2 separate regions of the Homo sapiens genome follow, and region 1 is linked to region 2. A link means that fine-mapping ties the variant in region 2 to the expression of a gene that starts in the linked region. Tissue or cell type: skeletal muscle. Region 2 holds a variant in brackets; the other region holds the start of a gene. All regions are shown on one strand. Distances are from middle to middle.

Region 1 (5,969 bases), 130 kb before region 2:
GTCCGAATATATTCTACAGTAGACTGCCTTCAAACAAAGACATGCAGTGGAAAAAACCATTTGAGTCTGTATTTTTCAGTAGTTCTAACAACACCAACCACTTTCCAATGTCTAATAAATCAACTTAACTTTGCAAATGCATATTTAATTGATGAGAACTTTTGGTCAGACTTTAGAATGCTGGTAAAAGTTGTGAGACTTAAGCAAAACAACTACTCAAAGTTTGAAAGGCCAGTGTGGATGAAAAAATTCAGGTTATCGCCGGGCGCGGTGGCTCACGCCTGTAATCCCAGCGCTTTGGGAGGCCGAGGTGGGCGGATCACGAGGTCAGGAGATCGAGACCATCCTGGTTAACATGGTGAAACCTTGTCTCTACTAAAAATACAAAAAAAAAAAAAAAAAAATTAGCCGGGCGTGGTGGCGGGTGCCTGTAGTCCCAGCTACTCTGGAGGCTGAGGCAGAAGAATGGCGTGAATCCGGGAGGCGGAGATTGCAGTGAGCCGAGATCGCGCCACTGCACTCCAGCCTGGGCGACAAAGCGAGACTCCGTCTCAAAAAAAAAAAAAAAAAAAATTCAGGTTATCTCAATTTCTGTGCAACAAGCACAGAGCACCATCATTTCAATACACAAAACCCTCAAAGATGACATCCATTGATAAGGCATTAGTTTAAAAGCTAAGCAGAGGTTTTAAGTTCCAAGAGCAGTATGTCCCAGGACATAACTCAAATACACCTATCAGGAAACATTTTCATTGTGCATAGCAACTGGAAAAACTGTTCAAATGCACATTTGCAAAGACCCTAACAACCCAAGGAAAATATTTTCCACTTTTTATTTTTAAAGCACCCAGGTGTTTCTGTATTGTAAAAGCCTCAAGGATAACTTCTGACATTGCAAATGCCCTAGGGGTGGACATTGAAGGATTACTGATTTTTTTTTCAAAGCAACTCCTACAGGTGGATCATTCATTGCCCCCATGAAGTAACGCAGTACGAAAAGAAGCAGGCTCAAGCCATGCTCAGATAAATTCACGGATATCTGATGTACAATGGGCTAATTACTGGGAAGAGACCCGAATTCATTCTTAACTTTTTGAGGTCAACTTTAGGAAGCAGTATGGAGTTGCAGCGAAGGGATTAAGGACCTGGAGGCTAGCAAACTATCCTTAGCTCTACCTATTAATTAACTATGTGACCTTTGGCAAGTAATTTCACCTCTCTGTGCCTCAGTTTATTATCTATAAAATGAGTGGGTTGACCTTTACCACAAAATCCCTTCCAGCTCTAAAATTTGATGAAACAACTTAATGGAGAACAAAATACAATGCGTTCTGCAAACTGTTTCTTTGAAGCCTTAAAGACCACCAAGAAGTACACGGCTCAGGCATCTCCAATTAAGTCTGGGCCAATTCTCTGGGTGTCTGGTACACAACCAACCGACTCCTTACTTGCCCTGCACCGTTTCTGTTTCACTGGGCATTCAAATCCATGGATCTCATCTGTGGTTTGGAAGGCTGAGCAGATAACACCCTCATTTACACAAGAAACTTAGGCGTAGGGCTTAAACGTCCTGTTTAAAGTCTCAATCGGTAAATGACAAAGTCTACTTGACCTCATTGCTCTAAAAAGGGGGGTGGGGGGTGGGGATGCCGGGGAGGCGCCGACAGCCAGTTGTTCTGGGATCCCTGAACAGCAAACGCTCCCGGGAAAAGGCCTCAAGCCGACTACTGGGTTCAAATCTCTTGAAGGTCAGGTCGGCATGGCTGAGCCAATTCCTCCGCTTGCAAGACTCAGGGTTCGGAGTCTGCCAATTTGGAATTCACGTGACTATGTGTTAAGTTTCTCGCGGGGACGCGGGGGTAGAGGGCTGCAAGGCACAGGGAGCCTAAGGCGCCAGGCCCTCGGACTTGGAGGTTGCCTGGAATGGGTCAGTCACCTGGGAGCCGGTTCCTCTGCCTCGGGCTTCGGACGCACACGGTCCGCACCAAGGGCACCAGCTTCTGCTTCAAAGCACCCGCCGCCAGGCCTCCACACCGGAACATTTCGGCGACCGCTATTCGGGACCTCCTCCTTCCCTTTCCTCTCACGCACGACCGACGGGTCAAACACCGTGAGCCCCGGCCAGCTCCCCCAGTCTCTTCACACGCACATTACGCAGACTCCTCCTCCCAGCTCCGGGTGGGCATTGGACAGAGAAGCCGGCCTGCTAGAGCCGGGGAAGGGGAACGGCGACCGGAGGCCTACTGCGCAGGCGTAGCACTCGCTGCCGCATTGCGATTGGTCCGCACGGCGAGAGGATTTGCGCATGCACTAGCTGGCCGCAAGCTCGCAAAGACGCTGGCTCTAGGTAGCCGGTTTTCGCGAGTTTGTGGCACAGTGTTGGACTGAACGAGTTAAGGAACCTGTTCAAGGAGGGACTCGTGGGGCCGCTTTGATTGGCGGTTGTGCCTGGTGCTGCCGCTGTGTTGGTGACGAGAACTGATAACAGCATCTCACAACAGCGTAGCCCCGGCATCGCACTTTGTTTTTTGGTTTTAGGACACCAGTTACTTGATACCGAAGCCTTCCTGATTCTTTTGCAGTGATCCAGATCCAGTTTTTCCATGAGTCCGAGGCGCGGAACCTGGCTTCCCAGATCCGGCGTGTACTTCCATCTTTTACCAGTTGCCGGCTCTTTCCCACCCAACCCGTTTCCTGGACAAGTAATTCTGCGCTCTTCTTCCCGCCTGTCACCTTTATTTATTAGTTCAGTTGTGTGTCCTAGATGCTGTATACCAGGTGCTACAGATACACACAGTCTCCTGCTGTGGTTTCTGTGCTTGGGAGCAGGATGTTAGCAAAAAGCGTTCGTGCTTCTCGGACTTTCTGGGAAGAGAAGTCTGCTAAGCAGAACTTTCAGTTATGGGAGTAGGGTGAGGGGCTGAGTGTAAATAAGTGTTTTGACTCTGCCAGATATAAGCTAAATTGGAAATAATGTTTTGGCTGCATGCAGAACATACAATGTGCCTGTTTCAAAGATTCAGCTTACATATTCATTTAACAAGTATTTATTGAGCACTTACCTCTTGGATTGTACTATAAAAGGGGCTCTGTTGGGTATGAAAAGTACGGATGGTCCCCGACTTACCCCTCACAATGGTTCGACTTACAATTTTTCGACTTTATGATGGGTTTAATGAGACCTAACCCCATGTCAGTCGAGGAGCATCTGGACTTAAGCATGGTTCAACTTACGGTTTTTTGACTTTATGATGGGTTTATCAGGGTATTAAATGCAGTTTCGACTTAACGATATTTTCAGTTTACAATGGGTTTATTTGGACATAGCATCTATATAGGAAGTGGCCACTGTCTAGTTGGGGAGATGACATATACCGGTCATTGAAATAATATCTGGTGTAGTGCCGGACAGAGCAAGAGAGAAGACTATGGGATGGAATCACTATGGTAGAACTTCGTGTAAGAAGTTATTTGAGTTGTGTCTTGAAGGATGAGTAGTAAAATTCAAACAGTAGAGGAAAAGGATTGATATTTCAGATGGTGAATACTTTCGGACCAAAGATAACATTTTTCATTGTTAAACATGTTGACCTTGGATCCAGACCAACCCACATTGAATCCTGGCTCTGCCACCTGGGCAAGTCACTTAATTGTGCCTCATTTTCCTCATCTACAAATCTCAGGAGGGTGTTCGGAAGACTAAATGAGCTAATATTTGTAAAGTGTCTTAGAGGAAGCACCATGCTGTTTGTTAAATGAAAAGGCTTGGAACTGTTTTAAAAAACCAAAACCCAGCACATTTTCGGGGGACAATGATAGAGAGTACATACTAAGAAGTATTGATGTGGTCAGGCTCCGTGGCTCATGCCTGTAATCCCAGCACTTTGGGAGGCCTAGGCGGGTGAATCACTTTAGGTCAGGAGTTTAAGACCAGTCTGGCCAACATGGTGAAACCCCGTCTCTACAAAAAATCCAAAAATTAGCCGGGCGCCATGGCATGCGCCTGTAATCCCAGCTACTAGGGAGACTGAGGCAGGAGACTCGCTTGAACCTGCCAGGTGGAGGCTGCAGTGAGCCAAGATTGTGCCACTGCACTCCAGCCTGGATGATGGAGCAAGACTCTGTCTCCAAAAAGAAAAAAATAAAGAAGTAGTGATAAAGACAGGCAAGTATGGTGGGGGGCCAGATTTGAACTGGCAAGAGTTGGGCCCTAACTTTGGAGGTAATGAAGTTACTTTTTTTTTTTTTTTGGTGGAATGGGGATAGAGAATGAAATTACAGGGCCGGGTGCAGTGGCTCATGCCTGTAATGCCAGTACTTTGGGAGGACGAGTGGGAAGATTGCTTGAGGCCAGGAGTTCCAGACCAGCCTGAGCACATAATGAGACATCATCTCTACCATTTTTTTTTTAAATTAGCCAGGCGTGGTGGTATGTGCCTGTGGTTCCAGCTACTCAGGAGGCTGAGATGGGAGGATCACTTGAGCCTAGGAGATCGAGACTGCAGTGAGCAGTGATTGCTCCCGTGCACTCCAGCCTGGATGACAGAGCGAGACCCTATTTCAAAAAAGAAAAAGAAAGAAATTACAAAGATACTCTTTTTTTTTTTTTTTTTTTCTTGAGACGGAGTCTCCCTTTGTCACCCAGGCTGGAGTGCAGTGGCAGTATCTCGGCTCACTGCAACTTCTGCCTCCCAGGTTCAAGCAATTCTCCTGCCTCAGCCTCCCGAGTAGCTGGGATTACAGGCAGATGCCACCGCGCCCTGCTAATTTTTCTATTTTTAGTAGAGACGGGGTTCCACAATGTTGTCCAGGCTGGTCTTGAACTCCTGATCTCAGGTGATCGCCCGCCTCGGCCTCCCAAAGTGCTTGGATTACAGGCATGAGCCACCTCGCCCGGCCTACAAAGACACCCTTCTGTGAAGTTTAACCCAGGAAGTAGTTTTGTTTTTTGGTTTTCTTTAAGAGACAGTCTCATTACGTTGCCCAGGCTGGTCTTGAACTCCTGGGCTCAAGCAATCCTGCTGCCTCAGCCTCTCAAAGTGTTGGGATTACACGTGTGAGCCACTGTGCCAGGCCTAGGAAGTAGTCATTATGTGGTGAAGATGATCCAGGGCTCCCTTACCCATTAAGCAGAGTAGATCAGTGTTCAGAAGTGCAGGCAATGGGTGACATTTTATCTAGAGCTCCTTTGGATAAATATTGAAAATATGGTCAGGCTCTGTGGCTCATGCCTGTAATCCCAGCACTTTGGGAGGCCGAGGAGGGTGGATCACTTTAGGCCAGGGGATAAATATTGAAAGTATCAATTCCAGGCCGGGCACGGTGGCTCATGCCTGTAATCTCAGCACTTTGGGAGGCCAAGGCGGGCGGATCACGAGGTCCGGAGATCGAGACCAGCCTGGCTAACACAGTGAAACCCCGTCTCTACTAAAAATACAAAAAAATTAGCCAGGCGTGGTGGCGGGCGCCTGTAGTCCCAGCTACTTGGGAGGCTGAGGCAGGAGAATGGCGTGAACCTGGGAGGCGGAGCTTGCAGTGAGCCGAGATTGTGTCACTGCACTCCAGCCCGGGTGACAGAGCGAGACTCCATCTCAAAAAAAAAAAAAAAAAGTATCAATTCCAAAGTAAGGTAAAAATTATTTATATTTACTTAACATTTTAACAGCCTTGCATTGATTTTTATTGATATTTGTAAAAACCAATAATCATGGATTGATTAAATACAAAGTTAATTATATCTGATGGCAAAAGAGACTGGAAAACACTGTCAAAATCATGATAATCAGGTACCTATGAAAACAACTGCATGTATTTGAAAGTAATTTAATAATGCACAATTAACACAAAGGGCATTGTACAGTACATTTAATTTTTTTACAATAGGTACAATAAGGTAGTTTTCCTGTCCTTTTAATTAAAAATTATATTTTTATCTTTTTTCAAAAGCAATATATACTCATTGAATTAAT
Region 2 (5,969 bases):
GTTTTGAGTGGTTGGGAGAGAATGACTTTCTGTTTACAATTCTTAAGAGTAAGGAAGTAATTTTCTAGATAGCAACTTCTTGCACAGGTGAACAAGAAATAAGCCACCTTCAATGAAGCCTACCAACAAAAATCTTTCAGTAATCATATTCTCATAAAGTCTTATCCTCTTGACTGATGATGAAATGTCCAGGAATTGTCAGAGGGATTATAGTTTCAAGAAGCAGAATATCCTTAGGGGCTAATGAGTATCAGGGATTAAATATATACATATCCTCCCTCACCACAAAGAGGTTTTATTTCATGTCTGTTACCATCTTTTAATTCATTGTTTGTAAGCCCCATTTTAGAGGCAGATGTCTCTAATAGGCAAATGATATACCCTAGTTTATTTTATGTGCCAGGCCATAAATGAGCCAATTGACTAGGCTTTCGTTAAACATTAAATAGAATTGAGGTAAGATATTACAAGATACTCCTGGAACATCCTGTCATACCAGAAATTAAGTACCAAAGACCACTGAATCATGTCAAAAAGGACTCAAGGGCCAACTTGAAGATTCAAAGAGAGGACAACTTGAATATTAATTAGTACAATAACTATAATGAATTAGAACATATCAAATCTATTTCAATGCATTTGTTCAGATTGATATTCTAAAACAATGCTAGGGAATCAGCTTATTATTTTGAAGACTACAAAATAAAAGAGAATGAAACAAGTAATTATTCCACCTTTCATATGCATGATGTACCTCAGATTAATCATAGTTACTAAAAGGACATTTCTCTTCACAGAAGTATTCCAAATAATACGTGAAGAAGAAACGATAGAAATTATTATCCCCAATGAAACAGTGTGGATGGAAAGAATCTGCAATGGTGGTTAACTTCACAACAACAGACAAGCAGGTATTATTGCCCTGATGGCACATATACAACACCACATATGAAGTATTCTTGCAAAAATTCAAACTAAACTCTGATCAAGCCTTTAAATGTACATAATAATTTACAGAAAATACAGAGGATAAATAACACATTAAATGATAATTTTTTTAAACCTAGACTATGGAAAATTCTATAGGACAGACATTCTAGTATTGCCTCAACACATAAATTGAAAGAGAAGGAGGGAGGCATTCTAGATTCAAAGATGCTTAACACATATTAAACAAACATAGTGTGTGGTACTTATTTGGATCTCAATTTGAACACATCAACTGTAACAAAATTATTCATGATACAGCTGGGGGAAATCTGAACACTGACTGTTGATGTTATTAAAAATTATAAAAATTATAGGTATATTAATGGTATTATTGTTATTTTTTAGAGGTGTCCTTATCTTTTAGATATGTATGTGAAATATTTATGGATAAAATTGTTACCAGATCTTTAGGGTATTAATTTTCTTCCCAGAAACCTCTGTGACTGGTGGCACCTTTGCCCGAATTCTTGACCTGTGTCCAGGAAGAATGAGGTATGCAGACAAGTGAAGGGTGAATAAGATGAAGAGGAGCTTTATTTAGTGTTAGAACAACTCAGAGGAGACCCGCAGTGGGCAGATCCTCTCTAGGCAGGTCATCCTGTGGAGTGTTCAGCTCTCAACAGAGAAGAGGCCCTGGAGAAGCTGGCTCCTCTCTGCTGGCAGGTCATTCAGAGGTCTCTGCGGGTCTCTGAAGCTCTCAGCAGAGAGGGTAGCTCCTCTCTGCCACTGGTCATTCCATCATCTCTCTGTCCTCTGCCCTGCTCTGGCTGAGCCTGGGCTTTTATGGAACTCAGAGGGGAGGAAGTTCATACCGATTGGTCCATGGGCGGCCATGGGCAGCCTGGAAGAGGCACCACAAGACCCCACTCTGGTCAGCAGGTCTGGCAGGCTGGCCTCCAGCCTTCAGGTTCTCCCTGGCCTGAAGTTGGGGCCTTACCCGGGACCCATCCCTTCCTGCCCAGGAGCCTGTCTGCTTCCTGCTGCTGCCTATGGCGCCCAGACCGCTAGAGCCAAGGGGCACCTGCAGGCCAGTGCTGAGCTGCCCCCAGCCCCATCTTGGCCTCCCTCTTGTGCTCATTGGTGCCTAAAGTTTGGAGGGTCCCAGACAGCAGGGGGCCTGCGTGTCAACACTGCACCGAGCCTGTGCACACCAGTCCAGGGCGGGACAGAGCAGGAGCTCAGCCCCAACCCGGCTCCAAGATTAGAGGGAGTACTGGGAGCAGAGAGAAGCCAGGCAGCAGCAGAAAACACGCACGAGCCTGCGGGGACACAGGGGGCTAGGGCCTTCCAGACCCTCGAGGGTGCAGGTTGCAGAGCCGCCAGGGTTCTGCACCTAGGAGCATGGCTGCAGCTGCATCCAGGGAGCTCCAGTCCAGCCA[A/C]TTCAGAAGGGGCGGGACTTCCGCTTGTCCCCAACTACTGTCTGTGGAGTGGAGAGAGACGCCCGCGTTTACAACCACAGGTCAGGCAGCTGCAGCTGTATTTGAGAGGGCAGAGATCCTGCCTGCTCCTGGCACCCACCAAGAGCACAGGGAGGTTCAGATATACAGCTACAGTTTGGGCAGCTGCAGCCCTACCCAGGAGGGTGGGGCTCCTGCCTGCTCCATGGAGTGGGCAGCCCCAGCCACGCCTCCCTGCTGCAGCCGATACCATCAATATGAATTGATATCTGGGATTTGCTTCAAATTAATCAAGAAGTAAGGAGAAGGCAAAATTGGCTGTGAGTTGAATATTTGTTGATCTAAATGGTAGGTACACAGAGGTTAATTATACTGCTGTATCCACATGATAAGGGTATAAATTTTTTCATATAATTAGGTTATAAACTCGTACTTAAAATAAGATCTCATTTTCAGTTTTGAAATATATGCTATATGTGTACACACACACACACACACACACACACATTAGAAAGAAAAGAAAATATACCAAAAGTCCTTACTGGCTGTTTGGTGGGATTAGAAGTAAAACATAAGTTTTTATTGGTTTCTATATTTCTCATTATGGAAAACATTTTTAATTGAGACATAAAATTCACACACCATAAGAGTAATCATTTTAAAGTATACAGTTCAGTCGTTTTTAGTATATTCAAAATATTGTGCAACTGTCATCAATCTAATGCCGGAACATTTTAACCACCCTGAAGAGGAAACTTATACCCATTAAGTAGTAGATTACTAACCTCCTTTTCTTCCCCAGCTATAAGCAACCTCCATTCTTGATATTTCTATAGATTTGCCTATTCTGTACATTTTATATAAATGGAGTGGTACAATATGTAGTTTCTTGTCATTGGCTTATTTTACACACCATCATATTTTCAAGGTTTTCTGCAAAAAAGGGGGGGGCATTGGCATTTTGATAAATCTTGTGAGTATTGCCATCTTAACAATATTAAATCTTCTAATTCATGGAACCAGATATCTTTGTACTTAAATCTTCTTTAATTCTTCTCTGTAATATTTTGTAGTTTTCAGTGTATTAATCTTGTACTTCCTTGGTTATATTTATTCCTAAGTACCTTATCCTTTATGAGACAAGTTTCAGTGCAATTGTTTCCTTAACTTTGGTTTTGGGTTATTCAATGACAATATATAAAAGAGCAACCATTTTTAGATATGTATGCATTTTATTAAGATATAATTCATGTACCATAGAATTTACCCACACAAAGTCTATAATTCTATGTTTTTTATATAGTCACAGATACGTGCAAACATCACCACAGCCAATTATAGCACATTTTCATCACCTCAAATAGAAGCTGTGCACTTTATGTGTGATTCAGTGTCTCTCCATTATCCCAAAATGTGATCTACCACTAATCAACTTGCTGTCTCCCTAGATTTGCTTATTCTGTACATTTCATATAAGTGGAATTAAAGAATATGCAAGTTTCGTGTCTGGCTTTTTTCACTAAGCATAATGTTTTCAAGGTTTTTTTTTTTTTCATGTGGTAGCATGTAGCTATACTTCACTACTTTTTATGGCTGTATAATATTCCATTTTATGGCTATATCTGATTTTGTTCATCCATTTATCAGATGATCATTTAGGTTGTTTTTACTTTTTGTCTATTAAGAATAATACTGCTTAGCAAAGACATGGAACCAACTCAAATATCTGCCAATGATAAACTGGATTAAAAAAATGTGATACATATTCACCATGGAATACTATGCAGCCATAAAAAAGAATGAGATCATGTCCTTTGCAGGGACATGAATAGAGCTGGAGGCTATTATCCTTAGCAAGTTAATGCAGGAACAGAAAACCAAATACCACATGTTCTCACTGATAAGTGGGAGCTAAATGATGAGAACACATGGACACATAGAGGGGAACAACACAAACCAGGGCCTTTTGGAGGATGGAAGGTGGGAGGAGGGAGAGGATGACTAAAAATAATTAATGGATATTAGGCTTAATATCTGGGTGATGAAATAATCTGTACAGCAAACTCGCATGACACATGTTTACCTATGCAACAAACCTGCACATCCTGCACATATACCCATGAACTTAAAATAAAAACTACAAAAAGAATAATGCTGTTATGAACATTTGTGGATGCATTATTGTTTGAAAATTTTTTTTAATTCTCTTGGGTGTATACCTAGGAAGTGAACTGATGAGTCACATAGTAACTCTATGCTAAACTTTGCAAAAAACTGTAAAAAATTGTTTTCCACATCAGCTGTACTACAGAATGTTCTCACCACCCTCGTATTAGGGCTCCAATACTCCACATCCTTGCAAATACTAGTGTTGTTAAAAAATTTTAATAATAACTACCATAGTGGATGTGAAGTGGTATCTCATTATGGTTTTGATGTGTATATCCCTAATGACTAATGATGTTGAGCACCCCTTCATGTGCTTATTGGCCATTGGTTTATCTTTTTTGAACAATGAGAACACATGGACACAGGGAGGGGAACATCACACACCGGGGCCTGTTGGGGGGTGGGGGTCAAGGAGAGGGAGAGCATTAGGACAGATACCTAACGCATGTGGGGCTTAAAACCTAGATAACGGGTTGATAGGTGCAGCAAACCACCATGGCACATATACACCTATGTAACAAACCTGCACGTTCTGCACATGTATCCCAGAACTTAAAGTAAAATAAAAAATAAATAATAAATAAATAAATAAATAAATAAAGGAATCTGAACTTGAAAAAAAGAAAAAATGTCTATTCAAGTCCTTTGCCCATTTTTTTCTGAAGTTGCCCATTTTTTTATTAAGTTACAAGTGTTTTTATGTATTCTGGATACTACAACTTTATGAAATATGTGTCTTGCATATATTTTCTCCATCCACTAAGTTGTCTTGTTACCTTCTTGATAGTTTCCTAGAGGCACAGAACTTTTACAATTTGATGAAATCCAATTTATCTATTTTTTCTTTTGTTGTTTGTGATTTCAATGTTATATTAAAGAAATCATTGCCTAATACAAGTTCATGGGGATTCACACCTGTGTTACTTTCTAAGAATTTTAGAGTGTTTAGGTCTTACATTTGAGATCTTTGATCCATTTTGAGTTAATTTTTGAACACAGTATGAGGTAGAGGCCAAATACATTCTTTTGCACATGGATATCCAGTTTTCCCAGAATCATTTTTTGAAAAGATTATATTTTCTCTATTGAATTGTCATGGTAACAAAATTTAAAATCAATGTACCATAAATGCATGGGCTTTTTCCTGGACTCTCACTATATGTCACTGCTTTGTTTTTCTTTTTAATCCCATGGCATGACCACAGTGTTTCGATTACTGCAGGTTGATAATATTTTGGAATTGAGAATAATAAGTTCTACTTTGTTATTCTTTCTCAAGATTGTTTTTATTCTTCAGGATGCTTTTCAATTACATATACATTTTAAGATCAGGTCATCTATTTCTGCATAAAAACCAGATCATATTTTGATAAACCTTGAATTCAAACTGTAAATAAATTTGGGAAATATTGG

Alleles and levels. Alleles are on the strand shown, and positions count from the first base shown. SD is a standard deviation of normalised expression in the study named.
In carriers of allele A in region 2, the expression in skeletal muscle of the gene that starts at base 2,227 in region 1 tends to be higher than with C alone (small effect, 0.29 SD a copy in GTEx).

Evidence for each region. PIP is the estimated chance that this variant, and not a neighbour inherited with it, causes the effect.
Region 1: it holds the start of AIFM1, and the variant in region 2 is fine-mapped to the expression of AIFM1 in skeletal muscle (GTEx, PIP 0.98).

What each region holds. Positions count from the first base shown.
Region 1 is chrX:130,163,615-130,169,583 of GRCh38, forward strand. It overlaps AIFM1 (apoptosis inducing factor mitochondria associated 1), which reads right to left and starts at 2,227. Exons shown (of 16, transcript NM_004208.4): 1 at 1,937-2,227. The coding sequence starts at 2,042. It also overlaps a transcript of RAB33A not described here. RefSeq lists an enhancer at 1,876-2,215.
Region 2 is chrX:130,297,523-130,303,491 of GRCh38, forward strand. No RefSeq gene overlaps it. Among named protein-coding and RNA genes, the nearest start is that of ZNF280C, 32 kb to the left of the region's middle. The variant A/C (reference allele first, on the strand shown) is at 2,370.